Linked DNA regions of Homo sapiens. The protein of the gene in region 1 purifies or fractionates together with the protein of each later gene. This does not show direct contact. Each region holds a gene or a part of one and is shown in the gene's direction. Other genes may lie near its edges.

Evidence for each region.
Region 2: the proteins of ONECUT1 (region 1) and SERPINB13 purify together in Homo sapiens (affinity purification with mass spectrometry; 2 studies listed by BioGRID and IntAct, with this or other methods). This does not show direct contact.

Annotation. Positions count from the first base shown.
Region 1 is NC_000015.10:52,773,945-52,789,108, reverse strand, and holds part of ONECUT1 (hepatocyte nuclear factor 6), read left to right. Parts: coding exon 1-329; intron 330-8,224; exon of another isoform or gene 8,225-8,513; intron 8,514-15,164. UniProt on the Homo sapiens protein: Transcriptional activator. Binds the consensus sequence 5'-DHWATTGAYTWWD-3' on a variety of gene promoters such as those of HNF3B and TTR. Important for liver genes transcription.
Region 2 is NC_000018.10:63,585,780-63,600,943, forward strand, and holds SERPINB13 (serpin B13), read left to right. Parts: upstream 1-1,563; 5' UTR 1,564-1,671; intron 1,672-2,871; 5' UTR 2,872-2,888; coding exon 2,889-3,053; intron 3,054-3,876; coding exon 3,877-3,936; coding exon of another isoform or gene 3,937-3,963; intron 3,964-6,568; coding exon 6,569-6,697; intron 6,698-7,074; coding exon 7,075-7,192; intron 7,193-8,246; exon of another isoform or gene 8,247-8,395; coding exon of another isoform or gene 8,396-8,459; intron 8,460-8,575; coding exon 8,576-8,718; intron 8,719-9,249; coding exon 9,250-9,405; intron 9,406-11,179; coding exon 11,180-11,584; 3' UTR 11,585-13,413; downstream 13,414-15,164. UniProt on the Homo sapiens protein: May play a role in the proliferation or differentiation of keratinocytes.

The DNA of each region.
Region 1 (15,164 bases):
GGGCCACGGGCAACTCCTGGGCACAGCCCGGGAGCCCAACCCTTCGGTGACCGGCGCGCAGGTCAGCAATGGAAGTAATTCAGGGCAGATGGAAGAGATCAATACCAAAGAGGTGGCGCAGCGTATCACCACCGAGCTCAAGCGCTACAGCATCCCACAGGCCATCTTCGCGCAGAGGGTGCTCTGCCGCTCCCAGGGGACCCTCTCGGACCTGCTGCGCAACCCCAAACCCTGGAGCAAACTCAAATCCGGCCGGGAGACCTTCCGGAGGATGTGGAAGTGGCTGCAGGAGCCGGAGTTCCAGCGCATGTCCGCGCTCCGCTTAGCAGGTGAGCCGGCCAAGGAGCTGGGCGCGCGGGAGATAAGGTACACGAAAGCCGAAGGGACCAAAGGAGGAAGGGTAGGAGAGAGGGCTGGGTGCGCTTCATCCCGCCCGCCCCTACCCCTAGAAGGGGGACTCCCTGTGCCTGGAAGGGCCAGCACAGGGCTGTGGGAGCAAATTGCCTACTCCAGGGCTCAGGGTGTTGGGCTGTGGAAGGCTCCGAGAGCTAAGCGGCCGGGCCTCGGCGACTGAAGAGGCTCATTTGCGCTCAGGGACAGCGAGGGAAGCTCGTACGGCCTGAGGCGGAGAGAAATCCCCGCACCTGGTGAGACACTCTGCGCCACCTCTCAGTTCAGCGATCCGGGTTTGGGAAGAGGGATGCAACGCGTGCGTGGAATCGCACGCAAATGTTCCTCGCAGGTACCTCTGACACATCCCAGGCGCTGGGCTGGAGCGTGCCGGAGCAGCGTCGATGTTTGGCCGAACTGGCTGCTGTGACCCCCTCCCGCGCTCATTCTTTTGGCGCTGGCTGGGGTGACCTCAATCTAAGAGTATGGGCAAAAAGTTTCAGAGCCATTGGGCGGTGGGTGTGTAGCACAGACGAGTTGTAAGGGTTAGGACGCTCTCTGCGCATGGAATTGGCTGTGGAAAGGAGAGGGAGGCTGACCGTCCCAAGGTCCCAGTGAGAGCTGCAAAGCAATAGCCATGTCCTGGGACCGACTCCGCTGCCGACTCCCTGAGGACTTTGCATTTTGTTTTATTATTCCTCTTCGCGATTTTCGTCTGAATCCCCGTGCGGGAGGGGGGTTTGGGGATGAGAGTGTGTAAATGACCCCCAAGTCTAGGAGCAGAGGTCTCCTGCCCGAAACCCCAAGCCCCAGGTGTTTCTGAGTTCAGCTGGAAGCTCTCCTTGGCGCAGCGCAGACACCGCGCCTGGCTCCCCGAGACCGCGGATAGGCAGAGAAGAAAGCTGAGCCCAGCCCGAACCCCACCGGGGATTTCAGGAGGATTCGGCGACCCTTGAGGGTAGAGAACATGAGGGGAGGTAGAGCTAAGGACAGCGGAGGGTGGCCTGGGTTTGATGAGATCCGGCCGGCGGTTGCCAAGTTGATTGACTCCTGGTCCATGCCCCCTCCCCCCCCACTCCCCCACCCCCCACCTCCACCTCCATCTCAGCCCAGCGCCCAGGCCTGAGCCTTGGCGAAGAGAAAAGGTAAAAGCCGGAATGAGGGTTTGTTAATTAACTGATCGTTCTCCATTAATTCGTCCCTGGAGAACGAGAGACAGTCAATCCGCTCTGAGCCGGGGGCACTGAGCCGTTTCACAGTCTAAAATCAAAGCGTGAGGCCAAAGCCCCCTCCTCCAACTCGTGCCTGCCAATGAGAAGCTGGGGGTGGCAGGTGCCGACCAGCCTGCGATTCGTGCCCCGAAGCGACCCAAAGCGTTCTTTGGGTTTGGGCGCTGCAGGCCACCGGTCCCAAAGCACCGCGCTGGCTGAGACTCTGCCCTGCCAGGTTTTCCAGCCCAGCTCTGCCTTCGTTCGCCCCAGGCAAAGTCCTCATGCAGGTTCCTGCAGCCTGCGCCCGGGAACCAGTCAGGGGAGAAGAGGCTCGCTGGGCGCCCCAGCGAATCGCTGGCCCCCGGTTTTCCACTCTCTAGCTCTTGTGCTACCGGCACCATATCTCCACCCGTGGGCTGCCCGCGAGCAACTGAGGTTCCGGAGGGAGTGGGCGAAGGGGCTGCTCCTCGTCCTGACTGCTCCGTCTCTCCAGAGCCCAAGGTAGTGCCTTTTCACACACCCACACCACCCCAGAGCCAGGCTTCAGGGCCTCTTACCCAGGCAGTGCCCGCTGAAGCCAAAGAGTGGAGCGGGGGAATGTGGGAAGAAGATAGAAATGGAGAAGGCTACCCCTCCGGGAAAACTCGGTCCCCATCCCCCACCCCCGCCCCCTGGAGGCTCTTGCTCTGGACTTCAATATCCCTCCTCCCCCCACTGCCTGCTGTCGCCCCCTGGAAGGACAGACTGACACGTTCTGTTCAGAGACGACCTCTGAGCCATGGAAACCTGGCCGCAGGAGCGCCCTCTGACCTCCAAGCGTGGAGAGCTACATAGCCGAGCTCAGGGGACGGCACTGTGGAGGGGGAGGGAGCCTGAGTGCTGGGACCCGCACGCTGGAGGCGCAAACATGGTGCCTGGCAGGTGCTTGTGGCACCCAGGAGGCTATCGAAGGAGCGCCTGCCTGGGCACCCAGCAACCTGTAGAGGTCCATGCAGCCCTCGGCCCTAGGCCCATGGCCTTTTCCTCGAAAAAGTGAAACACTGGAGAGTCCAGCAGGGCAGGCATTTGGCACCAAACACCAAGCCGACTCTGTGTCCTGAGACCCTGAGGAAGCATGTCTATTACATTTTTGTTTCCTTAACTTAAAAGGGATGGTGGAAAGGGCTAGGACTGAGGATTCTGTGTTGGTCCAGGAGGGTCTCCTGCAAGGAACCAGGAACAGTCTCTTCACAACCTATTTTTAAGTTACTGAAGAAGGAGCCATCTCATTAACATTTTCATATTTTAAAAAGAGTGGGGTTATTTTCTGAACTTTCCAAATGATCTCTAACGGGCCAAGTGCATGAGCCTTAAAATGGATTGCAGAGCGCCTTGGCCGTTCCTACGGGACATTAGTGCCTGCCCCCCACTACCAGCTCCCATATGGGGAGGTGCCCCTGGCAGCTTTCCTTGCTGTTGCGCTCAGAGACCCTCCCCAGTCTCGTTCCAACCACCTTGCGAGGTCAGGGCTCACTGAGCTCGGTTCCTTCGCTCCGCAGCGGGAGAGTGGTGGCTTCTCCACGCCCCTCTGTCCTCCAGTTGCCGGCAGCCTGTTGCAGAGGGTCAAAACCCTCTTGCACGTGGCGCTGTGTTTGGGGAGGCGCCTTCCGGTCACGAAATAACAGCGGCTGGTGGAAGAAGGGCGACAGGAGGAAATTCCCACCAAATTAACTACCTTTTAAAAATCAATATATGTTCCCTCCATGTACTACTTGCTGCTGCCCCATTAAAGAGCAGAGCGACAGGGTTCTCGCCGCGTCTCCTCCGGGATGAGGCGGGGGGTGTGGGTGGGTGGCGCGCCTCTGACGTGGGCGTCTATCAAGACCAAGATTAGTTTCCAATTAAAGATTCCAGAGGGCTTCGGCCACACAGCAGGAGCTGCCGGCTCGGAAAGAGACAGCGACACACACCCAACAGCAAGCGCAGCACCGCGGACCCAGGGGAAGGCGGCGCGCAGGCCCGAGGTTCGGGCGGGGGTGGGTGTTGGGCACTCCGACCCTGCCCTGCGGGACTTGGAGGCGAGGAAACCTCCAAACCCCGCGGGGGAGTTGGCGGCGCCCCCTTCCCGTCCGGTGTTTGCCCCAGAACGACCTAAGAAGGACCTGAGCCAAGGGGGGAGGGGTTCGGTCGGGGGGCGGCCATGAGAAAGTCTCGCCCAGCCCAACCTGGGCTGTGTTTGCCCTGAGTGGCCTTGCGGCCTGGTTGATTGATAACTGGCCCCTGCACAAGTCCATTTGCTTTTTTGTTAATATTTATCCCGGGGTGACATTTCAAATGTCCCCCTGCTTTTCTGGGCCATGGGAGTCAGGCAGGAGTGCGGGGCCCTAGGCAGAGCCCTTCAATCCTTGAAGACTTCTGGGCCGGGAGAGAAGCCAGGACTGGGCGTGTGGGACGCAGGAGCTGGAAGCGTTCCTGGGTCCAAGAGTTGGGGGAGAAGGAGTCAAGCGCAGCGGTTTCCTCGCGCTTCGCGTCTTGGCGCTGTGGGTCTGGTGTCGCGCAGCTGCTCCCAGCCCGCTGCGGCGCGAACAAAGGGCCAGCAGGGCGCGACCGACCGTGTCCGCCTCTGAGCCCGGGGCGAGGGGCGCCGCCAGCTGGGAGCGCCTCCTCCGAAGGCCTAGGATGGCCTCCTACGGAGACCAAGGAGTCCCAGAGCCCGCCAGGCCGAAAAGTGGCAGTGCATCCCGGTAGTCAACTGGGGACCCTCACACACACACACCTAGCCGACTGCAAAACCAAAAAAGGTCTCGCTCCTGCGGACAGTCACCAGAAGGCTCTGCGTGGTGCCTGTCTCACGGCCGGTGTCTGTCCCCTCGAGGGTGTAGGACCATAGTTCCCCCTGTGTAGTTCTCTCTGTGTAACGGGCATAAACCCGGGTGAGGAGAGGGAGGTGCGCTTGGGGATAAGAAGTGGGCTCGTGGCGACGACTGGAACCGCTATGGCTGGGGCAGGGGAAACCTACTTCTGGGGCTTAAGGGGGGCTGATGGCTATTGTGTGGCGACCTTGGTGTCAGCGCAGCTAGGATGCCTGCCAGAGACGAACTCCACTACCTGTTCGGAGGTATGCGGCTATCCCGTCAATGGGTGCAGCACCTATCGCCCTGGAAGCATCCGGAGAGGGATCCCGGTAGCTGGGGCGACCAGCCTGACCCAGGGCACAGCGGTTGCTAGAGACCCAGCCCCGACATCGCCGCTTACCACCGACACTTGGGTCGGACAGTGCCAACAATAGCACGGTTGTGTTGTAGCAGCAGAGGACCCAAATCCCAGGATGCGCCTCTCCTTATCTGCAAGCCTCGAGCCCTCCGCGCTCCCTGCTTCCCTCCATTCGGCTCCCTTTCTGGGGGTAGCCGGGCTGTGCTGCGGCTGCGGCGCGCGCCCCCTGCGGGCCGTCGGGGCTGGGCGACCCGCGAGCGTCCGTGGTTCAGCCCGCGGCAGCGAAGAAAGGGATGCTTGCTGCGCCTTTGTTTTTAGAACGTCGTTGTTCTAGTGAATTTCAAAACAATAACTATTTTGATAGGAAGAAAGTGTGAAGGAGGAAGAGAAGGATATCTAGAGGGTCTGTCGGGGTACCTAACAATGCCTGGGTGTTACCCAATTCATGAAAACAAAATTCTCATCTTCCGAAGTACACCTCAGCTCTAACCTCCCCAAAAAAGATGCGTACTTGGATTTTGTATCCGAAGTATGCTTTTGTTGGCGTGTTTTCATTTAAGAAAAGCGGGGTCAGCGTAGAGAAGGTGACCCTGGCGGTCCGAAGTCGGAGGTTGGAGCTGAGGGATATAATACCCGGCGGATTGGCGGTTCCTTTGTTTTGTTGTTTCCTCTTCCTGCAAACTGACCGGAGTCAGGAGGCAGCCCTGAGGCCTTGAGCTGAGAAGTCTTTGTTTCCTCTTGTGTGGGGTGGGTGAAAGGGCCTTCGGAGGCCGACTGGTCTGGAGCCCTGGCGCGGAGTCAGGACCCTGGACAGGGTCCCACCGCCCTGACGCCTGGTCCCATTTCTCTTCGCCCCGGTAGGCAGATAGAATGTCTTTGGGAAGTCATAGTAAGAAAACAAAAATTAACAGCTAAAGTTCCGAAGTTTCTTAGGGCGCTAGGCCCAGCCGGGAATATACACTGGCACACTGAGGTAATCGAAAAGATCAAACCTATCCTCGTCGATCGGGTGGTTGATCTTTTCGTCCCTCCACGCGGCTTTGTGTGAGTATCTGAGTGCACGTGCACACCTGCTTATAAAATCGGAATTCGCGTCCCTGTGGGTGTGACAGGGGTTGGATCATTAAGCTAAAACGTTCAATTCAGTCCCTTTGATCCGCGCTGGGGAAAATCTATAGTCATCTCTAATCTACGAGGTCTTTAAGGAGGTTGTTACACGAGCTGTTTTGATGTCATTATTTCCACATTCATGGCAAATTCAGCTAATCAAACAAATGCTGCTACCCCAAGTTATCAGAAGAAATCGTTCTTACAGAGCATACCAATAAAATTTATTTCTGATTTTCTTGTAAGACAGAAAATCCTCAAGTCTAATAAAGGTGGGTAATTAAGAAGGAGGCTCTCCAATATCCTGCTCCTCAGCTTGAGGCCTTGTTCCTCAAGTGACATTGCTTGTGCTCTTTGTAAAGTCCATTTATTGGAATATTTAAACACCGACTTAATATTTTAAATCAATCTAGGAGCCTTGATGGTTTGAATGAGAAATGACTAGTTTCCTTTCAGTCCCCATTAAAACAGCAGAATTTCCACACTCTTGGTAAAATTGAATGGCCCCCAACCTAGGGTAGCAACAGAAGGAAGGTGTTACTGAAGTTGTGGTTGTTAGAGGGTGCATTTCTTATAATGCTGGAGAAAACATTTAACAAATATTTATTAAATAATACTCTCATTGTGTCTCTATTTGAATAAGATGGATAAGCATCTTTGGGAGAAGAAAGCCACATTATTTCTACATAAAAAATGTCAGTCTCATAGAGTCCAGTAAAAAGAAAAATATTTCTTATGTGAATGGATTTAGTGCACAATCATAAATTCCTACCTTCTATCAATAGGTTTGTATAGGTTCTTATTTTAATACAAGTATGTTAATACTAACGAAGTTTAATTTCCTCCTGAGATAATAAGATTGGGCTAGGTGACTAGACCAATCACAAGACAATCTGATTATTTTGATACAAACATAAAAATTACTTATCACAGGGTCTTGCTATAGAAGCATCCACATATGTCTCTTCCAAGAGATGTTACGGTATCATAAAATTGTAACAAATTAATTTCTAGAAATTTTCTTTTCTTAATAGCTAATAGATGCTGGGCTTAGTACCAAGATGATGGGTTGATCTGTGCAGCAAACCACCACGGCACATGTTTACGTGTGTAAAAAACCTGCACATCCTGCACATGTACCCTGGAACTCAAAATAAAAGTTGAAGAAAAAAAGAAATTTTCTTCTCTTTTAGATGAGGCAATTTAATAAGACAACAGCTGGACAGAACTAGACCCTAAAGTACAACCAATCTCATTTGTCATAGTAACTGATAAGGAAGAAGCTTAAGTTTTTTGTGCACATTCTATTTGTTGGGTACTGTGATCGGAACATAGATGTTCTCATTGAAGACTCAACATTTATACCAGTGGTTCCCAAATCTTGCTATACATTGGAATCACTTAGAGACCTTTAAAAAAACTGATGCCTAGCTGCAGCTTCAGATATTTTGATGTAATTGGTACAGGACGTGACATGGGCATTGGATTTTTATAAACTCCCAGGTGATTTTGATGTGCAGCCAAGTTTGGGAACCATTAGTCTAAGTGGTATTTACCACTTTTTTCCCTGTTGCTCTCTTCAGTGAGGTTAAATAATTTACTTGTGATAACACCACTGGAAAACAGTGATGCCCTGAGCTCAGCTTTCCCAGTCCAAAGCCCAGAACATTTTATCCTCCATCCCATGCTTCTGTTGCCAGGACAGGTGCACCAGGTTAGTGGAGTCAGAATGTGGAAATAACTGATTCAAAAGTCTCTACATAATAAGCTCTTGAAATTAGAGAAAGTGTGTCTTTCCTTTGGGACTCTCAAAAAGAGTCACTTATGAAAACTTATTTCTTTTATACTCAAGACTTGTAAAAGAGATTTTTTATTACTCTTTTTTGAAGAAGCAGCCAGAAAATGTGAGGAAGTGCCAGAAGTAGATGTGAAACCCCAGCCTCCCATCCCTTTGTTCACTTAAACAATTATTGATGGACAAGACCTATCTCATTAGATGTGCCTGTGGGTGGGGCTGGTCCATTCGGTCCCTTGCCTTGAGGGGGGCCCAAGGGCTCAGATCTTCCCATACCTTCAGGCATTGGCATTCTGATCTGCACTTGGACAGCAATTACACTTCTTGGCTCCACATCAGTGCCTGCCTTGCTATTTCAAAGATTGCCTGTAACTCAAATTTTAGGGCTCTGCACTAAAAAGTAATAAATTGACCAAAACAGAGTATATAGGCTGGGAGTTGTCTAGAGGGCATCTTGCAATTTCTGTCAAACACTGCATGTTTCCAGTCACCATGTGTTTCTCATCTTCCTTTGCATATGCCGCCACGGGATATTCAGAATCGACGGTTTCTGAAATCACTGCTTTCGTTTTCACATCTGGTGATGATCTCATAGTCCCAAAGAGAGGTTATCGAAGGAACGCAATAAACTATGTGCTTTTTGCTTTCTTTCCTGTTGTCTTCTAAAACAGATCAATGGGGAAAATTAAATAAACAAACGAGCGAAGCGCGCCACCTAGTGACCTCTGTGCTCGCTGCAGATTCTGCGACTGAAGTGCGTGAGAGGAGTGGCTAAAGCGATTCGAGTATTGATGGAGTCACAAAAATCGTTCATTAAGGCAATTTAATCTTTGCTATTAAATGTCCTTTCAATTCATTTGGGGTAATTAAGATGCAGTTAAAGTGATTAAATTCTAATTACTTATGCTAGACAAAGACATATTTGTCACACTAATGCGGTTAACTAAGGACTCAGAAAGAAAGTTAACATTTACTTCAAATGATGCAACTGGAAAAATCAGTTCCTCTTTTCATCATTAATCCAGTGAGCTGGGTGATTATGTAATGGCACTACCAGCTCATTAAAAGGGGGAAGTGCTGATTAAAATGACTGCTAGGAGGAAAACTGGAACCAGAAGTACCTCAGTACTGTTTGGTCAGCATTCCTGCACAAAATTACTTGGTGTTCTTTCCCTCCAAGCCCCCCACCCCAGAGTAATAAACAGCTCCTGAGTTTCATCCTGACATTAAAAAAGGGCTGCCTCACAGAAAGCTTTTAGCATCTGCCTGCAGACGTTGTTAAACCAAAAGATTTGTTTAAATGGTAAAAGAGGACTTGGTGTAGAGAGGACCAGGCAGATGGGAAGGGATAGGGAGGAAGAGAATTCCTGAAGGACACAGCTCCAGAAGGAAAATTTCCACTACAGGCTTCAAAAGCCCCCTTTGTTCACACCAACACCCATCCTGTTAGGAAGCACTCCTTTTCCTCCCCAGCTCCACATTTACTGTCTGATGGATGGAGACAGATGCCTCTGCCCTAGACTTATATACCACACTCGGTTATTATGCATACTCTGGAGAGCGCTAAGTACCTCTGCTGAAGATTGGTCTCTTTTTGGCATTTTTCCACATTCGCATGTGGATTAGAAACCGTCAAGTCACGGAGGCTAGTTTGCCATATCTCCATAGATCGTTCCCAGAGTCTTAGTATAGCCTAATTATGAGTGCTCCTAAGGGGAAGATGATTTTAAATTTAATGAATTTAAAGTTTTCCTTACAAAAATGGCTTTTTAAGGAGGCACCTAGTATTTGCCTGGTGGGTATGGGGAATGATCCAAGGACAAGAATGATCAATCAGATAATTGGGGACTGTTTATCCCCCAGGAGACCAGTGTCTCTTAGGAGAGTTAAATTTGCATATTGAAACTATAATTTTGGTTTCTTTATCCCATCGAATAATATCACCCGTCTTTATAACCAAAGAAATGAAAGTTATCAAATTCATGCCACTTAAGTTAAACAAGTTTTTTTTTTAAATAAACTGGTCGGCCAGGCACGGTGGCTCACGCCTGTAGTCCCAGCACTTTGGGAGGCCGAGGCGGGCAGATCACAAGGTCAGGAGATCGAGACCATCCTGGCCAACAGGGTGAAACCCTGTCTGTACTAAAATACAAAAAAAAAATATTAGCCGGGTGTGGTGGCCTGCACCTGTAGTCCCAGCTACTCGGGAGGCTGAGGTAGGGGAATCACTTGAACCTGGGAGGCGGAGGTTGCAGTGAGCCTAGATCACACCACTGCACTCCAGCCTGGGCGACAGCGAGACTCCAGCTCAAAATAAATTAATTAATTAAATAAACTAGTCAGTTATTTGAATATTTACAGTCATTATTAATGTAATGGATCGTATTACACCATCTTCAGTTACAAAAAAAAAAAAAAGAAAACCCTCTCTGGATTAAGAATAAAGTGCCCCAGAGGAAGATTTCTGTAGTAATTAGCTCTTAGACATTGTCAAGTAATTTAACCTTTCTGGGCCTCAGTCTCAATAAATGTAGAATGAAGGATTTGGCTTTAGGGTCCCTTCCAGGTGTCACATTCTATGATTGATTGCCTTCTATGATGACTATGTATCTATCCATGGGGAAGCTTAGTTGGGGCCCTAGTCTCTTCTAAGTTTAGTGCTCTGTCTGCAGTTTCAGGTCTCAACAAAGTGTAAGCCTCAGGGGGCCAGTCCCTTGTCAGGTGGTCAGGAGGAAATAACCTATCCAGGCAGGAGCTCTGCCTTCTGGCCCCAAAGTGCTGCAGCTTGAGATTCCATTGCTTGTGTTCTAGTAAGACAAGCTGTTAGCAAGGATATGGGTCATTAGGAACTCTTAGCCACTACTGGTGGAAACGAAAGTAAATTGGCACCTTCACTACAAAAACATAGTGTCAATGACTTGGCATCATCTTCTCAACCTGGACCTACATATATCTAGCAATTCTACCCTTTGGCATATATTATAGGTAAATTCATAAATGCTCTTAGAGACATGCAAAGACTGTTCTTGGCAGCATTGTTCCTAAGAGCAGAAAAACTGAAAAAGCCTAAACGTTCACTGACAAGGAATGCATAAATAAATCATGATATATAAAAACTATTTTTAAAAAAATGAGTAATAAACATAAATTTAGAGGATAGGGGAAGGCAGGGAGATAAGAGGCAAGAACACCCTGTAGCTTCACAAGGCAACTAATGTTCTAGTTCTTTTATTGAGTGGTGGACTCATAGATGTTCATTTTGTTTTTGTGCTTCATATCTTACATATATGATACATATTGTTTGGTAGGCAGTGATTATTATTTATTTTTAACATTGAGGAGGTAGAAACATTGTTTTTGTCTGATTCCTCAACCCAAGCAATTCAGACCAAACAAACCTCAAGACATACTCTATTGTCATTTAAGCAGGTTCTAGCCCCATACTAAATATCAGCTCTCATAGGAATTACATTCAGCCATTTTTGGACGGGAGGATAAAATAAGTAAAAGAGGGAATTTCATTAAATATGGAAAAAAGAGTTAATTTTTTCACTCATTTGAGCACCTGCTGTAGCAAGTTCCGTGCTCAGGACCGGGAATGGAATGTACAACACAATTTTTCTTTGGAACTCACAGTCTAGCAGGGAAGAGAACAAATAACTTTACATGTTTTTTTGTGTGTGTGTGTGTGTGTGTGTGTGTGTGTGTGTGTGTGTTTTCCAGGAAGGAGGAGTTTAAGGTGTGATGAAGGGACAATTTTGAAGATCTGGAGGATGAGTAGGACTTGGGACAGAAATGGAGGAAGAAGTTTCCAGGAAGAGGGAACAACAGCATGCGTGGGGGCCCTGGCTAAACTCCTTTTGTAGAAGAGCTCTTAGATCAGAATTACTATGAAGCTAAAAGCTTGTTTCTTTCCCAGCACAGCTGAGTGACACAAAACATTGCCATCAATTACAAAAGCATTCTCCAAAGCTGTGGTTTTCAGTGGTAGGGAGCCATGGACTGAGGGTGTCCTATTCCTCTAGAAGAGCAAATCAGATTGGAGGGAGAGAAGGGGGGAGAATATGTGCTGCTTAAAAAGTTTCCCCGGTGATTCTAATATAAATTCAAGTGGCAAATTAGAATAATGGTATTGAGAATTTAAGGGTAGATGACTCTTATTTTTACTCCCTTTTCCTACTTACTTCTGGAATAACCTATAGCTCTGTAGCTTACTCTGTATAACTGTGTGTTTGTGTGTGTTTATAAAATCTTTTACTTCTTTTGATCTTTTTGAAATCAAAAGTTCACTCAAAACTTCAAGATCCTTAGAGGAATAATTGATTCAACATGCTCCTCCATCTAAAAAAGTTATTAATGTTCTATAGGTCCTCACTACTCAAAGTGTGGCTCCCTAAACAGCAACATCGACCTCACCTGGGAACTTGTAAGAACTGTAGACCCTCAGGTTCCACCCCACACCTACTGAACCTGAATCTGCATTTCAGCAAGACCCCCAGGAAATTCTTGTGTCCATTAAAGTCTGAGAAGCACCACTGATGGCCATGTTACATCACTCAAAAGGTCTGTTTTCCTTCATTCGCCCAAACACTGATCGGGTGCCTCCTATGTGCCAGGCACTAGGCTGAGTACAGGGGCACGAAAGAGGAATGAGGTGTTTATTGTATCCTGAAGGAGCTCACAGGGAGGAAGCATGCAGGAAAATAAATACCGACAAAGTCTCTGATCTGGGTAGAAATAAAGTTCTGTGGGAGCAGCCAGGAAAACTGGAAAGGAGACTGAAAGGAGATGACAAAGGACCTGGTGTGTTGGTGCAGCCCAAAGGAAGTTGTGACCTGTTGTGGAATGAAATGGTCAGATTTGTGCTTTTGAAAGCATGCTGGAGAGGAAGATAATGGGAGGAAAAGTCGCAAGGGACTAGCTAGAAGTGGCAATAGATTCTGAGGGTCTGATTATATGTCATTGTCAGCAAAGGTGGAGAAAATGGGTGGCAAAATTTGAGAGCTATTTCTAAAGTCGAGTAGACATGGTGGAGAGTGAAAATGGAAATGGAACAGGCTCCTTGCTTCTGGCATGGGAAGCTGGGTGCTTGGATATACCTTTAGCTGCAGAGTGGTTATGTGGATGTCAATATAAAGATGGAATGTTTCAGAATAGTTCACCCTCTCAAATACATTCCTACGATAGGTGGGCTCTCTGGCTTCTGTACAGATTTGAGGCATCCAATCAGTTAGATTGTTTCTGCCTCACCGGAACCTGTTACTTACTGAGAGAGACATGATGTGAGCACGATGCTAATGAGGTGAAGATTGTGGGTCCTTTGGGTCCAGTTTTCACTTCCCGGTGTTGGTGGGCAGTGATGGTTACTCACATTCCATCCAGCCACTTCCCTGGGTACAAGGAGCCCTGAAGAACCAGTGGAAGGGGTTAGCCCAAATCCATCCCTGCTGTTAGAGAAACAAAAGTAACTCCCCAGTAATGGTAGCTCAAGAGCTGTCTATCTATAAACAAAGAGAACAGCAGAGTAGACAGAAGCACAGACATGTAGGTGGGGCAGACAAATGTTGGAAAGTCTTGGTTTGAGTCACTTACAAATCTATCTGTGATGGAAACTAATCAGTTTAATGGCAAGCATATTTTCATAAGAAAACACATTTTACTTTCCTCCGATCTAGTTATTTTCACAGTTGTTCCATAAGCAACAGACTTTTTTAAAGAATTGTTTTTAATTAATAAATATTTTGAACATATACTAAATGCACATCATTATTTTAATTTGAACAGCATGAAAATGTATACAGAAAAAAACAAGTTTTCCTCCCAATCATATTCCCTAAGTCCCCAAGTCCCCCTCCCTTAGAAGAAACCCCTGTTACCAGTTTCTTGTATATTCTTAAGAGATAGTCTATGGCTCTTTAAGAGTGTGTGTGTGTGTGTGTGTGTGTGTGTGTGTGTGTGTGTTCCTCTTTAAAAATAATCAAGGGCCTCTCCCATCTCCCAAAAGATAACTTTCTAGGGAAAGTACTAAATGGCTCTTACTTCTTTTAATTATTTGGCCAGAAAATTGCCTCCCTAGAAGATGCTGCCCAGTGCAATTATCTGAGTAATGAAATTAAAAGAGAAGTAGTACAGGGTGACCACCCCTCTGCGTAGGTTGAAAATGCTCCCAAGTGCTTCAGTGGTGGTCCCCTTATTCTAGCTTATTCTAGCTCTTTTTTTTTTTTTTTAGACAGTCTTGCTCTGTCACCCAGGCTGGAGTGCAGTGGCGCAATCTCAGCTCACTACAACCTCCGCCTCCTGGGTTCAAGTGATTCTCCTGCCTCAGCCTCCCGAGTAGCTGGGATTACAGGTGTGTACCACTGCACCAGGCTACAATTTGTATTTTCAGTAGAGACAGAGTTTCGCCATGTTAGCCAGGCTGGTCTTGAACTCCTGACCTCAGGTGATCTGCCCACCTCAACCTCTTATTCTAGCTCTTTTATGAAAGACAATTCAATGTGTGAAAGATGTTCAAAATGCAAGCTTATAAAACATTATATCTACCATACAGTTTCCTCTTTTAAAGTAATAAATACACTCAGACACAACTACAATATCATTTTGGAGCACTACCCTCAACACAAGGGTGGAGATTTTTTCCAAAAAGTTAATTATTGTACCGCTTATATATACTTTTTTGAATTCTGCTTTTGTCATGACATAGCCTTAGTAAATTTTTTTTAACATTTGTTTGATACTTACCATGTTCAAGCACCTTGTATCTTATTTCTTAATTTATGTTTTAATTTCAATGCTTTTTTAAAAGGTAACTTCTGGCCAGGTGCGGTGGCTCACGCCTGTTATCCCAGCACTTTGGGAGGGCGAGGTGGGAGGATCACGTGAGGTCAGGATTTCAAGACCAGCCTAAGCAACATGGTGAAACCCCGTCTCTACTAAAAATACAAAATTAGCTGGGCATGGTGGCGCTTGCCTGTAGTCCCAGCTATTTGGGAGGCTGAGGCAGGAGAATCACTTGAACCCTGGAGGCGGAGGTTGCAATGAGCCAAGATCAAGCCATTGCACTCCAGCTTGGGCAACAAGAGCGAAACTCTGTCTCAAAAAATAAATAAATAAATAAATAAATAACTTCATTTCTTGTTGCAAATTATTAGTATTATATACATCCTTTGAGCTGGAGCTGCAGGGTAAAACACTAATAAAGAAAAAAAATAAAAGAATCACCCACAGCACCCCACACAGATAACCCTCTGTGTGTGTGTGTGTGTGTGTGTGTGTGTGTGTGTGTGTGTGTATCCTTCCAATCTTTTCCCTATGGGATGGTACATACTACTACTTTGTAACTTTTCAAACTAAAAAATCCCATTATTAAATTTATGGTGGAGTATTTGAAAACACATAAAAGAATAATGGAGACAATAAAAAATCTCTGGTAATTCCATCATCCCTGTCCTTTCCCAAATATATCATGA
Region 2 (15,164 bases), on another chromosome or scaffold:
TTCCTGGTGTGAGTGGGCCACTATAAAAGAGGGAAGGTGAAGGTCCGAGAAGTGAGAGGCGCTGGCAACAGGAATGGTGAAGTGGTACAGGGTGGCGGTAGCAGCTGGGGTGGACAGGAAGACCATATGCAGAGTCACGGAGGGACCTGTGGTTGGGGACAGAGCAGCACAGCGTGATGGTCTAAGTTTCCAAAGGGGAGCATTGAAGGTGACTGAAGGAAGAAAGACTTGGAAGAAGAGGGAGTGCGAGGGAGAATAGGAATGGTGACTTTGCTTTCCCAAGATATGAGTGGCCGTTCCCAGAAAAGACTATGGGATGTAGTAGTCCTCAGGACATGCCAGGTTTCCCGGTGAAAGCAGGTGGTAGAGCAAAAGCTTTAGCAAAAAGCAGAAGGCCTGTGGAAATGGCTGGGCAATAGAACAGGAAGTCTAGGGGCCACAGAGAAAGAAATAAGAAGATATAAATGGATAGGGATATTAAAACATAAAGCATTATGGCCGACTCAGAGATTTTATGCCATTTTAAAAAACTAACATTTCCATTTCACTGGCATCCAGGGTTCACTAAGTGTTAATTCTTTCTAAACCTTACTCAATTTGCAAGATTCTCAGTGCCTATTAAAAAGCAAATCAACTAAATGTGGCTTTGAGTTTGCTTAAAGAGCAGCAATCAAAATATTTTGAAAAAAGTAAATTGTGAGTATGGAGATTGGAACACACATGACCCATATGCCCTTCGAGCCTGCGTATCTAGGGAGGTGTTCCTCTAGGCAGAAGGAAGAGCTAAGACACCCTTCTAGGAGCTGCTGCCCAGCAACGATGGCAAATCTCCACGCCCTTTACTGAAGATTAAAGCTAAGACTAATCCAAGCACAGTTTCTTTTAATGAACTGGTAGGGCCAGTAGAAATGCTCCAGGGTTGGCAGGAAAAACTGGAATCTGGGGGTGTAATTTCCTATTGAGTTTTTTTGGTAGTGTTGTTTTCCTGAAATCAGTGAGGATATTGAGTGCTTATGAATTATTGGCATTAGACACAGTACCTGGTACATAATAGACTTGATAAATGTTTATTGAATGAATTAAAATGAGATATTTTACAATTAATGGATGGAATACTTGAGAATAATAGGTGTGTGTGTGTATGTGTGTGTGCGTGTGTGTGTGTGCGCATGCTCGCTTGTGTGTGGCTGCCTACCCAAACTTTTCTTGTTCTTTTTTCTTGTTCCTTTGTAGCAAGATAGTTTTCTTTCATTTTCTTCCTGGCATTTGGCACTCCTAAATAATGCAAATGCAAAAATAACTCTGTTACAGAGAATGACTTGTCAGGACACAGCTCTGTCCATCTGTGGTAAGTAAAGTATGCATTTAATGTATGTGTTCATCAGGCTATACACCTTTGGTTCCCAGCGTTGGCTGTACATTGTAATCACCTGCGGTGATAAAAATTCTGATGCCTGGTTTCCACTCGAGAGATGCTGACTCAGTTGGTCTGGGGTGGGGCTTGGGCATAGATTTTTTTTAAAGTTCCAAGGAGATTTTAAGGTGCACGCAAGGTGGAAAACCACTGCTGAAGCAGATGTGGAGAACTATAAATTAAGGATCCCAGCTACTTAATTGACTTATGCTTCCTAGTTCGTTGCCCAGCCACCACCGTCTCTCCAAAAACCCGAGGTAAGTTCTTATTTTGGCTCCAATTTAAGACCTCTGTATTTTGAGAACAATGATGTTTGTTGTTTGAAAGAATTACTTTTATTTTGCATAGACTTTCTGGAGGTAGTTTTATTTAATTCAGTTCCAACATGGCCATGACAATGTATCTTCTTTGACAGTAAATTAATCCATTTTATTTCTGAGTTAACCTGTAAAGGATCTCTGCAAGGAAACCTGAGGTTGAAATGAAAGCTTTGATATCAGATGTGGGATGCCTTAGCGGGGATGAGCCCTTGAGGGCAAAAGGCCCCAAAGTATGTGGGCTTTAAAAAACTTTATTTTTCATTAATCTTATTCTTGTTTTAGGATTCCTCCTAAAGCCTTTACTTACTAGTTTTAAAGTAGTTGGTAATGAAGCAAACATAAAAACAGTTCTACCTATTTATTTTTGGCAAATATTAATTGCTCTTTAAAAACTATTTTTGTGAAATGACAAAAGTAATGCAAGCTCATGTACAAGCCTAAAACAATACAGAAAAGTATAAAAAAGAAAACCCTTTCATCTCCACCTAATAATTCATGACCAGAGATATGTGGTTTCTGCTTCAGAAAAATTCAGCCCAGAGTCAAGTTTGTATGCAGTTAGGGAAAGGGGTTTAAGAGATTTAATCAATCCTGTCACTCTCTGGGCTGAATTTTGAATCAATTGAGAAATAGTATCAGATAAGGATTCAAGTCTCGGCTTAATTATTGCTAAGGTTGGATCTGAGAGCACTGTTTGAACTTGAGGCCCGTGGAGATTCTTGTGCCTACCCCCCTGCCTTATCATGGGCCCCACATCTGGACAAACTGGTGTCGCCTGGACAAGGGCTGGGTCTACCTGGGGAAGCTTCCATGAAGAGGAGGCTGTGGAGAGGCAGAGACAGGCAGGGTCAGACAGAGAGCAAGAGAATAAAGCCATTAAAACATTAACCCTGCTCCGCGGGGAAATAAGAACTGAGCACCACCGGATGACGGAAGACTCCAGTAGATTGATGGATGTCTCCCAGCAAGAGAAGGCCAAGAGAGGACGTGAGAAGCAGGCAGCAGCGACCTTTCACCAAAAGGGTGGAAATCCCTGTATTCCGGATCGATGCAAGAAGAGGAATAGAAGCAGAAAGGATTCCCCTGACACAGAGTAATTCAAATGTTCAGTTTTGATTGTTGTTCTTGCTATTCTAGGTCTCGCTAAAATCATCATGGATTCACTTGGCGCCGTCAGCACTCGACTTGGGTTTGATCTTTTCAAAGAGCTGAAGAAAACAAATGATGGCAACATCTTCTTTTCCCCTGTGGGCATCTTGACTGCAATTGGCATGGTCCTCCTGGGGACCCGAGGAGCCACCGCTTCCCAGTTGGAGGAGGTTGGGCGCAGTCAGGGGGCTTCCTTGTTTCCTATGCACAAATTCATTTGGCGGGGGGGTTGTCAGCCCTCTTGCATTATCTTAAAAATACGCTCTTCTTGACCTGTGGACCAGGAAACAGAGACTTTCAAGACAAGGAGCAATTTCAGGTCTATCAGGAAAGCCCTCTTCCTTTTCCAAATACCATCTCGCCACCTGCTCCCAGATGCTTGAAATTTTTTTGAGTAGAGACTGGTTGCGTAACCTTGTCCAAGTACTTATGGAAAAAGTGACATAATCCCCACAAGGGTAAAAATGACACATCCAAGATGAACACAGGAACACATAAGCCAATACGAGTTCCTTAGAAAAAAATTAGAGGTATTTTTAGTAAAGAAGGGGATTCACCATGTTGGCCAGGCTAGTCTTGAACTCCTGACCTCAGGTGATCCACACGCCTTGGCCTCCCAAAGTGCTGGGATTACAGGCATGAGCTTAGCTGGGTGTGGTGGCAGGTGCTTATAATCCCAGCTACTCGGAAGGCTGAGGCAGAAGAATCGCTTGAATCCAGGAACAGAGGTTTCAGTGAGCCAAGATCATGCCACTTCACTCCAACCTGGCCAAAAGAGCAAAACTCCATCACACACACACACACACACACACACACACACACACACACGAAAAATCAGAGGTAAACGCAGACCTTTTTCTGATTTTGCAAGGAGATAATGTCACCTCATATACCACCGAGGTTTCTTTCAGAAGCGTCCACTCTCCCCTGACTGATTCTGTGTGAGGTTTTCTCTTCTCTGAGCACCACAGTAATATTTTCTATCTCTTCCAGGTGTTTCACTCTGAAAAAGAGACGAAGAGCTCAAGAATAAAGGCTGAAGAAAAAGAGGTGGTAAGAATAAAGGCTGAAGGAAAAGAGGTGGGGAGATGTGTTTTACAAACTTCAGTAGAGTTGCATTTTAGGTGTGGGGTCTCTGGGGAAAAGGACTGAGAAAGGCATGAAAGCAATATTGTTGCTTTACTATTAAGCAATAATAATCACCATAGACAAATATTGTTGTAAGGATTATACAATAATAATAACCCCTTAATATTGAGAAGAGACCTTAGGTGTAATGGACAATACCGCTATGATAGAACTGGTAAAGGCTAATAGACAGAAAAGTTCCCATAGCAGAGTGGATGGGTTTTGGAGTTAAACAGACTTAGGTCCAAGTCCTGGCTCAGTCACTTAAGAGCGATGCTACTTTGGGCAAGTTATTTATCTTCTTTCAGCCTCTGTAAAGTCCGCAGTAGGGGCATCTGGCAACTGAGCCAGTGGTGGTGGTGGTAGTAGCAGTAGGTGATATTATTGCTAAACTCCACTCATATTTTTAACCCCGTGCTGATGTTGTATTTAAAAAATTATTACAGGCCCAATGACTTCCTGAGGTCTTTTCCAGCTCCAGTGTTCCTGTATTCGCCATCCAAAGGAGAGTCTACTCAAATATGGGAAAGGAATAAGCCCATTAGGTCGGGGCTAGGATCAGACGTTAGCACTCTCAGGAAGGGCACAGCTGCTCTGACAGTAGTCATAGTGCAATTCCAGACCCTCATAAAACCATGGCTCAGATCACCCAGCAATAGGAGCTGCTCATTTCACAACCCCAAAAGGCTAGGTCGTGTGGGTGGCTCAGTTGCTCCTGTGGAGGGTCAGGCTTCCTTTCAGGGTTTGCGCAACCAAGTTGGGTCATATGGCCACTGCAATGTTCCCTCAACTGAGAAGTGCAGTTGTCTTCAGAGCACATTCTTTCTCAGCCATGATAGCCCATGTAGAACCTTTGTGCAAATTAGAAAACAGCTCATTCTTTTGGATAGCTGCCCTACTCCTATGTGAAGGGCTAGATGACTGGGGTGGAAACTGAATTTCAGCTTTGTGTAAGGCAAAGCTTACACATACATGCTGTCTAGCAGTTTTGCCCATTCCCCAGAATTTTCCTGGGAGCCACAGGGGTATGAAGAGAATAGAATTACTGACTGAAAGGATATTAGCACTGGAATACATCTTAGAGGTCATCTACTCCAATCTCCTCATTTAATAGTTTGCCCAGAGACTGGCTTGGCATGTACCCGTTTGATTATTATGTAAATTCAGAGTATTTTGAATCTTGCTTTTAAAAAATGCTGATAAAATCTCAAGACATATGTACAAAAGGTATAAGGAAAAATGCAATAAACACACTTTAACCCCTCCTTTAAGTGTACAAAATAAACTATTACCAAATCAGCTGATGCCCCTTAGGCTGATGTATAACACCTTCCTTGAGCACGCCCCCATCCTCTCCTCAGAGAGGAAGTCCCACTATTGTGGATTAGGTGTTCATTATTCCCACGTATTTATTATTTCATTACATGCCATATATTTTTGTCATTCTTCTTTGGAACTTGATTATTTTTGGCTTAGCATCATGTTTATAAGATTCATCTATTTTAAGGGGATACTTATAGCTCTATTTGATTCATTTTTATAGCTATTTCCTCATTTATTTTGTTGATGGGGCCGGCCTTCCTTCCTTCCTTCCTTCCCTCCTTCCTTCCTTTTTTCTTTCCTTCCTTCCTTCCTTCCTTCCCTCCTTCCTTCCTTTTTTCTTTCCTTCCTTCCTTCCTTCTACAAACAATGCAAAAATGGCCTTTTTAATGCCAGCCTCCTAATTTGCCTGGGTGAGAGTTTATCCAGTCCCAAGCTATCCAGTATAGTAGCTACTCAAGTGGCTATTGAACACTTGCAATACATCTAGTTTGAATCCAGATGTGCTATAGGTATAAAATGCATATTATATTTTAAGAACTTAGTATGAGAAAGGAATACAAAATATTAATTTTCATGTATTATTTTTGCTGAAATATGTATCTTATATATTAATATGTAATTAATATTTATTGTATTTATATGTTGAAATAATGACATTCTAGATATGTCGTTAAGGTAACATAGAATATGAAAACTTCAATCAGAAAACTGATGGGTCCTACATAAAATATTCAGAAAATTTTTTTTTTCCCCTGGAGACAAGGATAAATCTCACTTCAGCCCAATGTGTAGTGACTCATACCATTAGGAGTCACTCTTCTTATTCACTATCTGGAAAAATTTCCAAACTTCAATAGATAAGAATCGTCCGGAGAAATCACTTACTTTCCTTAGATGCTTAGAATCTTGTGGGGAGCTAAAAACAAGCTTATTGAACATTTAGTGAGCACTTTTATTTGAGACCAAAAAAGCCCACAACTTGAGTTATAAATGCAAGATCTGTGGTGTTGGGCTGGCAGAGAAGGCTTCTCTCTGGAGCTGAGATTGGTCATAACTGACATTATCATATGACTTGGGTAAAGGCTACCTGATATCCAGGGGCCACATCAAACACAGGGATCACCCTTGAGGCTGACAAACGGAGGGAGAGACCCAGCAGCCGCATCCTCTTAGGGGAGAATCTGGGCTTGCTTTTGCCAAGATAACCTGTTGAGATTTTGTTTTAATTTTCAAGATTGAGAACACAGAAGCAGTACATCAACAATTCCAAAAGTTTTTGACTGAAATAAGCAAACTCACTAATGATTATGAACTGAACATAACCAACAGGCTGTTTGGAGAAAAAACATACCTCTTCCTTCAAGTAAGTTTGCCATGCCTACCATATCTGTGAGTGGTATTCTGGAATGGCCAAATGGCCCTGGTAGGACTATGGGTCCTGAAGTCGTGCTGCCTGGCTCTGGCCACATCCCTGTGGTGCTTTTCCATCCTGATCTACAGATATTCAGAACTGCAGGGAGTTCCTTTTTAGTCCTGGCAATCTGAACCTGATTTTTGCCTCATCCCCAGAATAGCTGCATAAAAATGTGCAGCAGGAACTCAATGTGAGATGCCCAGGGCCTTAAAATTTCTCTTACTGTATTAGTCATCCTAATGTATACATAAATTTATTTAGAGATGTTGGCAATTGATAAATTGAGTTTTTAACCTCTTTTTATTCCTTCCTTGTTTCTCCTAAAGAAATACTTAGATTATGTTGAAAAATATTATCATGCATCTCTGGAACCTGTTGATTTTGTAAATGCAGCCGATGAAAGTCGAAAGAAGATTAATTCCTGGGTTGAAAGCAAAACAAATGGTAGAGTATGGGTGGGTCATTCATTGCAAAAAAACAAAAACAAAGAAACAAACAAACAAAAAACACTTCTTGACAACCTGCTGTGAATGAAGCCCTGGACTTGTCACTGCGTGGGGTGCCATGCAGTGCACAAGCTTTGGGAAGGGACTTGAGATAGGTTTTGCAGGGTTGGAAGGGCAAGCCCAGGCCTAGGAGGTAGGGAAGGCACTGCAGATGGTGGAGCAATTTCAGCAAATGTGGAGCGGCCAAGGGGAGCCAGTGAGGGGACTGCATGAAGCCAAATGCACGGAAACGCTTGCTGGAGAACTGTTTACACATAGCCATGGATCACAATATCTTGGGGGTCCTGAAAATAGGATGATGCCTGTCTTGGGTTTACATTCTTTCCTTTATATCAGAGCCTTTCTTCCTGAGTTTTTCTCTGTCTGTGTTAAATGAGAAACACGCAGCTCTCCCATCAAGACTTGTCGTTCCCATCCACAGCTGGGGCCACCTAGTCTTCATCTTCACTTAAGCATAGTGCAGGGGTAACGACAACCTACAGCTCTCCCCACAGCAGAGGATTTGACAAGTTTCTTATCCCATTATTCCTTTCTCATCCCCTGGTATGGGAAATCCACAGAGAAATGTTAATGTGGAAATTCACCTTGGGGAGCAATAGCTGATACTTTAGTGTTAGAGTTTCAGATTCCATTTTTATACCAATTATCAGAGAGAACTTTGTTATTCAGAATGTGTTTTTTTTTTCCCCTCATGCTTGGTCTGAAGAAAGGAAATAAAAGAAACAGAAAAAATAGGATCTTTCAAAAAGTTGAACAGTATTTTTTAGAATTTATTGTGGGATGGGGTGAACTCAGAGACAAAAATATCAACTCCTTCTCCAATATAATAAGTAATCCCTTAATCTCAGGTGGTAACTATATTGAATGGTAAGCATAATAGCTAACACAGAGTGCTTATTATGTGTGAGATGGTATTCTAATAGCTTTACATGTGTTAAATCATTTGTTCCTTTCAACAACCCTATGAGGCAGATTTTATTCCTATTTTACAGATGTGGAAACTGAGGCACAGAGAGTTTAAATAACTTGCCCAAGATTCCTCAGCTGATAAGAGGCAAACTGGATGCTAACAGAGGCATCTGACCCCAGAGTCTGGACTCTTAACCATGAACCTTAATTTATCCACTGGGATAAATAGGCGATGGGCAAAATGAGAACCTCCCCGTCGATTCTGCCAGCAAACCCTTTGTCAGCAAGGCCCTCAGGTGCTGACCTGGCTGGGTTTTTAATGATCAGTCAAGTCCATCTGCATCATATTTGTCATACATATTATTTGTCATTTGGAAGATGGGTCAACCTTTTTCTGTTTCTTCATTTGCAGAAAAAATCAAGGACTTGTTCCCAGATGGCTCTATTAGTAGCTCTACCAAGCTGGTGCTGGTGAACATGGTTTATTTTAAAGGGCAATGGGACAGGGAGTTTAAGAAAGAAAATACTAAGGAAGAGAAATTTTGGATGAATAAGGTATGGCCCTTAGTTTATTTTCGTGATGTGCTTACACATGGAATGTAAAGTCTAAAGTCATGGCTGGGCGTGGTGGCTGACACCTGTAATCCCAGCACTTTGGGAGGCCAAGGTGGGTGGATCATGAGATCAAGGGATCGAGACTATCCTTGCCAACATGGTGAAACCCCGTATCTACTAAAAACATAAAAATTAGCTGGGTGTGGTGGTGCACGCCGGTAGTCCCAGCTACTTGGGAGGCTGAGGCAGGACAATTGCTTGAACCCGGGAGGCAGAGGTTGCAGTGAGCCAAGATCATGCCACTGCACTCCAGCCTGGTGACAGAGTGAGACTCCATCCCCCACCCCCCCAAAAAAATCTAAAGTCATATTTGAGCAAATGCATACTGGTAGATAGTGGATGCTCATTCTGAGACTCTGATATTGGGTTTTATTTTAGATTGAGCTAATTATTTTGATGAACTAACTTGGTTGCCTTAATGCCTTTGGTCTTATGTCCTTTGATATTGTGTGCTCTGTTAATTTGTTGCAGAGCACAAGTAAATCTGTACAGATGATGACACAGAGCCATTCCTTTAGCTTCACTTTCCTGGAGGACTTGCAGGCCAAAATTCTAGGGATTCCATATAAAAACAACGACCTAAGCATGTTTGTGCTTCTGCCCAACGACATCGATGGCCTGGAGAAGGTAAACGCTTACACCTCCTTATTCTTTCTTTCATTTCCTAAGGCTTTTTGTCTCAGGGCTTCTGAGTAGGAGCTGGTGGCCAGCAGTGTCAAATAGAAAGTGTTTCTCACTCTCCAGCAGCTACAGATGGATGTCTACTGGGGAGCATTAAATAGTATGGGTCAGGTTTATTGAGAACAACTAATCCTAGAATGTTTGGGATGAACTAAAATGAACATTTAAGATTATATGGGAGTCCTAACGATCACCCACCATTCTGAGAAATGGTTGGTATCTATGGACCCCTTTCCTGGAAAAAAGAAATCACATATGCATATATACAACCAGTTCTGCACACTGTTCAATAGGCTTTTGGAGCTTTTGAATTTCTTTCTTACACTCTTACACCATTGATTTAGTCTCATCCATTCTGTGGTTAAAAAAATTATGTGAAGGCCGGGCGTGGTGGCTCACGCCTGTAATCCCAGCACTTTAGGAGGCTGAGGCGGGCGGATCACGAGGTCAGGAGATCGAGACCATCCTGGCTAACACGGTGAAACCCCGTCTCTACTAAAAATACAAAAAATTAGCCTGGCGTGGTTGTGGGCGCCTGTAGTCCCAGCTACTCGGGAGGCTGAGACAGGAGAATGGCGTGAACCTGGGAGGTGGAGCTTGCAGTGAGCCGAGATAGCGCCACTGCACTCCGCCTGGGTGACAGAACGAGACTCTGTCTCAAAATTAAATAAATAAATAAATAAATAAATAAATAAATAAATAAATAAATAAATTGTGGCTAGTGTCCTGTATTTTGAAAATGAGGAGAGTTTTGTTTCAAATCCCTGTTCCTCTAGTGGCTTTCTGACCCTTGAAGCTTCTTAACTTCCTTGAACTTCAATACTTTCCCATCTCTGAAGAGGGCTCCATGGTGGTTAACGTGCAGCAGTGTTGGAATGATTAGAGAAACGTAGCCTAGAAGGGGTCTAGGACATAGAAAGCACTCAAATGATAACTGCTATCGTCTTATACTACCAGATGCTGTGCTACTTCTGTGAAATATTGCTAGTAGCATTTTAAGTTGGAAAATATTTTGAGACAGCAAAATAGCAATATGTCTGAGAGCTTTAAGAGTATTTCTGATTCAAAAACCCCAGTTGTGGGAATTACTCTAAAGAAATAATGCAGAAGAAAAAAGTTGCCTTTCTGAGTAAAATCAGTTATTTCGGTATTAAATACACTGGAATGCCCAGTTTGAAATTCATCGTAATTATTATTTTGTATCCTTAGTAACTATCAAATCTATCACAATGCCTGATAAAGACTAAATGTTTGTAAAGTGAATGAATAGCTAAATATTGGGAAAAATTTATCAACTTCATAAGAATATTATCTAGCTGTTTGAAGATAGGAGAGATATGCAATATTGTGAAAAAGTTTACTTTTTATCAAATAAAATGGACATTCACTGTGATTGCAACTATGTAAATATATATGCATTCAAAGACTAGGAGAGATAGTTAAAATGAAATATATACTAGGTTGATAAAATAAGAAATGACTTATTTTTAATCTTTAAAAATGTATTCAATGCTATTGGATTTCCACATATACACAGATAATTTAAACAGAGAGATATAAGACAACCGCCTGCAGTATAAAGACAACAATCTAGTGAAATAAAATTTCTACTTTTAATATTACTAAAATTAATAACTTCTGACTGACACAAATCAGTGTTACACTGTTTTAGATTTTTATTGATAATCATGCCATTCTACTCTTCTTTTTTTGAAAATAGATAATAGATAAAATAAGTCCTGAGAAATTGGTAGAGTGGACTAGTCCAGGGCATATGGAAGAAAGAAAGGTGAATCTGCACTTGCCCCGGTTTGAGGTGGAGGACGGTTACGATCTAGAGGCGGTCCTGGCTGCCATGGGGATGGGCGATGCCTTCAGTGAGCACAAAGCCGACTACTCGGGAATGTCGTCAGGCTCCGGGTTGTACGCCCAGAAGTTCCTGCACAGTTCCTTTGTGGCAGTAACTGAGGAAGGCACCGAGGCTGCAGCTGCCACCGGCATAGGCTTTACTGTCACATCCGCCCCAGGTCATGAAAATGTTCACTGCAATCATCCCTTCCTGTTCTTCATCAGGCACAATGAATCCAACAGCATCCTCTTCTTCGGCAGATTTTCTTCTCCTTAAGATGATCGTTGCCATGGCATTGCTGCTTTTAGCAAAAAACAACTACCAGTGTTACTCATATGATTATGAAAATCGTCCATTCTTTTAAATGTTGTCTCACTTGCATTTCCAGTCTTGGCCATCAAATCAATGATTTAATGACTCCAATAATGTGTGTGTTTATAACCATCCTCGAAAGTGAAATGTCCTTTTCTTTGTGCCATGCGTAAGGTGAGTCAAACCAAACCTCATTGATAATCTCCCTTTGGTTTCCTTTGAAAGTAAATTGGTATCTTGTAGTTTTGTGCACACGAAAGGAGAGAAAGTCTCTCCAGTAAAGAGTACGAACTAGTAATTTTGGGGGGTCTCTCTAATTCTGGTATTTTGACATGTTATAATACGCAAGTAAAATAAAACAATAGTTTACTCAGCTCATGTTACTATTCCCCAACAGATATTGTGGCAAATCACACATAGGAAAGAGAATTTGGGAATACAGTAGCAAAACATAAATTAAAACTCAAATGCCAGGACAAAATAAAACAATATACCAGATGGAGAGGATGCCCGTATTTTCATCTTCCATTCTAACATTATCCATTGTTAGATGCATAAGCATTTTGATATTGTGTAATAAATGTGGTATTTGAGAAGATAAATGATGTAGTTGATCAGTATTCCTCCTCTATCACCTTTTTAGACTTTGTAAGGTAAATATTTGGACTAACTTTTAGAAAAGTTTCCCTTTTTTTCTCCATTTACATTTTTCTGGTTTTTTTTTTTTTTTGAGTGAGGTACGAGTATTACCAAATGATATTTTCTGAAGATGCTTTTTGGAAAGCTCTGAATCTATACCTAATGCTCTTAATTATTGGCTTGTTTCATTTTTTTCCTCCAGTTTTTAACAAGATCACATAACTGGCTTATTTTTAACAGCTTTGTCAAACTACAATTTACATGCCGTAAAATGTACACACTGTAATTTTATAATTCATTGACTTTTAGTAAATTTCTAGCGTTATGCATCGCCACAATCCAGTTTTAGAATATTTCCATGACCCTAAGAAGTTTCCTCATGTCTATTAATATTCCCAATCCTAGGCACCACTGAGTTGTTTTCTGTCTTTATAAGTTTTTCTTTCTACATCTTATATAAATGGAATCATAATACATGTAGTATTTTGTGTCTGGCGTCTTGCACTTAGCATGGTGTTCTTGAGGTTCATCTGTTGTAGTATGTATTGATACTTAATTTTTTTATTGCCGAATACTATTCCATTGCATGGAAAAGACCTATTTTATTTCTAGGTTCACCAGTTGAGGGACATTTGGATTGTTCCCACTTCTTGGCTGTTAGGAATAATGTTGCTCTGAACATGTAAATAAAGATCTTTGTGTTCACATATGTTTTCATTTCTGTTGGGGAGATTCCTAGGCTAGAAATTGCTGGGCCATATGAAAAATCAATAGTTAGCTTTGTAAGAAACAGTCAAACTGTTTTCCAACGTGACATTTTATATTCCCACCAGGAATGTTTAAAACTAGTGTCTTCAAATCCTCACCAACATCCAGGATTGTGTCTTTATGATTATAGCCATTTTTGTAGGTACAAAGTGGCATCTCATGGTGGTTTTAATTTGCATTTCCATAATATCTAATTAGGTTGAGCTTTTTTTATGTGCTTATTGGCCATTTGTTTGACTTTGTTTGGTGAAATGTATACAAATCATTTGCTCATTTTTAATTTGGGTTGTCTGTCTTGTCTTCTCATTTTATTGAGTTAAATGAGTTCTTAATAATCTCTGGCTTACAAGTCCTTAATTTATCAAATATATGATACGTGGACATTTCCTCATAGTCTGTGGTTTCTTTTAATTTTGTTATTAGTCTTTTTAGAACATATATAATAATTTTTAAAAGATATAATTTAATACCATAAAATCTGCATATTTAAAGTACAATTCATTGGTTTTAGTGTATTCACAGAGTTGTGTAGACACCTCCACTGTCTAATTTTAGAACATTTATAACACCCCAAAAGAAATTCTATACTCATTAACAATCACTCCCCATGCCTCTCTTCCCCAACTCATAGAAATAAATATTCTGTTGTCTGTCTCTGTGAACTTGCGCATTCTGGACATTTCATATAAATGGCATCATATAACATGTGGCCTTTTGAAACATGATTCTTTCACTTTGCCTAACAATTTTAAGTTACATTCAATTTGTAGCATGAATCAATACTTCATTCCATTTTTGGCTAAGTAACATTCCATTGTATGGGTACGTTAGACTTTGTTTATTCATTAATTAGTTAACAAACATTTGTATTTGACTTTTTGGCTCTTATGAATGTTACTATGAACATTTTGTGTGGAACAAGTTTTTGTGTGGATATATATCTTCATTTCTTTTGGGTATATACCTAGGAGTGGAATTGCTGGGTCATGTATTACTAGTACCTTTGTGTTTATCGTTTTGAGGAAATACTAAATTGTTTTCCAAATCAGCCGTACCATATTACAATACCACAGCAATGCATGAGGGTTCCAATTCTCTACATCGTAGCTATACTTATTCTAGTCTTTTTAGATTTTTGCTATCCTAGTGAATGTGAATTAGTATCTCAATAGTTTTGTGGGATCTTTCATAGGGTGATTGGAGTTCAGCTTATCATTAATATTTCTTTTTTTTTTTCTTTTTTTTTTTGTGATGAGTCAATCTCTGTTGCCAGGCTGGAGTACAGTGGCGCGACCTTGGCTCACTGTAACCTCTGAGTCCTTGGTTCAAGTGATTCTCCTGCCTCAGCCTCCTGAGTAGCTGGGATTACAGGCACGTGCCACCAAGCCCAGATAATTTTTGTATTTTTGTATTTTTTTTTTAGCATAGACGGGGTTTCACCATGTTGGCCAGGATGGTCTCGATCTCCTGACCTCATGATCCGCCCACCTCGGCCTCCCAAAGTGCTGGGATAGCAGGCTTGAGCCACTGCACCCAGCCCATTAATATCTTCTAAGGTTCAGGCTTTGGTATCAAATCTGAGCATATTTCCCTAATGATTAGTCATGTTGAGCATTTTTTACTATCTCTGTTGGCCATTTTGTATGTCTTCTTTTGAGAAATGTCTATACACGTTCCTTGCCCATTTTTAAAATTAGGTTTTTTGTTTTCTTGTTATTGTTTGTTATTTTTATATTTTGGATATTAACCTTTTTTTTTTCTTCAACTTTTATTTTAAGTTCAGGGATACATGTGCAGGATGTGCAGGTTTGTTACATAGGTAAAGCATGTGCCATGGTGGTTTACCGTACAGACCATTCTATAACCTAGACACTGAGCCCAGCATCCATTAGCTATTCTTTCTCCCTGTTAGAAGTGAGAACATGTGGTATTTGGTTTTCTGTTCCTGCATTAGTTTGCTGAGGATAACAGCTTCCAGATACATCCACATCCCTGCAAAGGACATGATCTTGTTCCTTTTAATGGCTGCATAGTATTCTATGGTGTATATGTACCACATTTTCTTTATCCAGTTTATCATTGATGGATATTTAGGTGGATTTCATGTCTTTGCTATTGTGAATAGTGCAGCAATGAA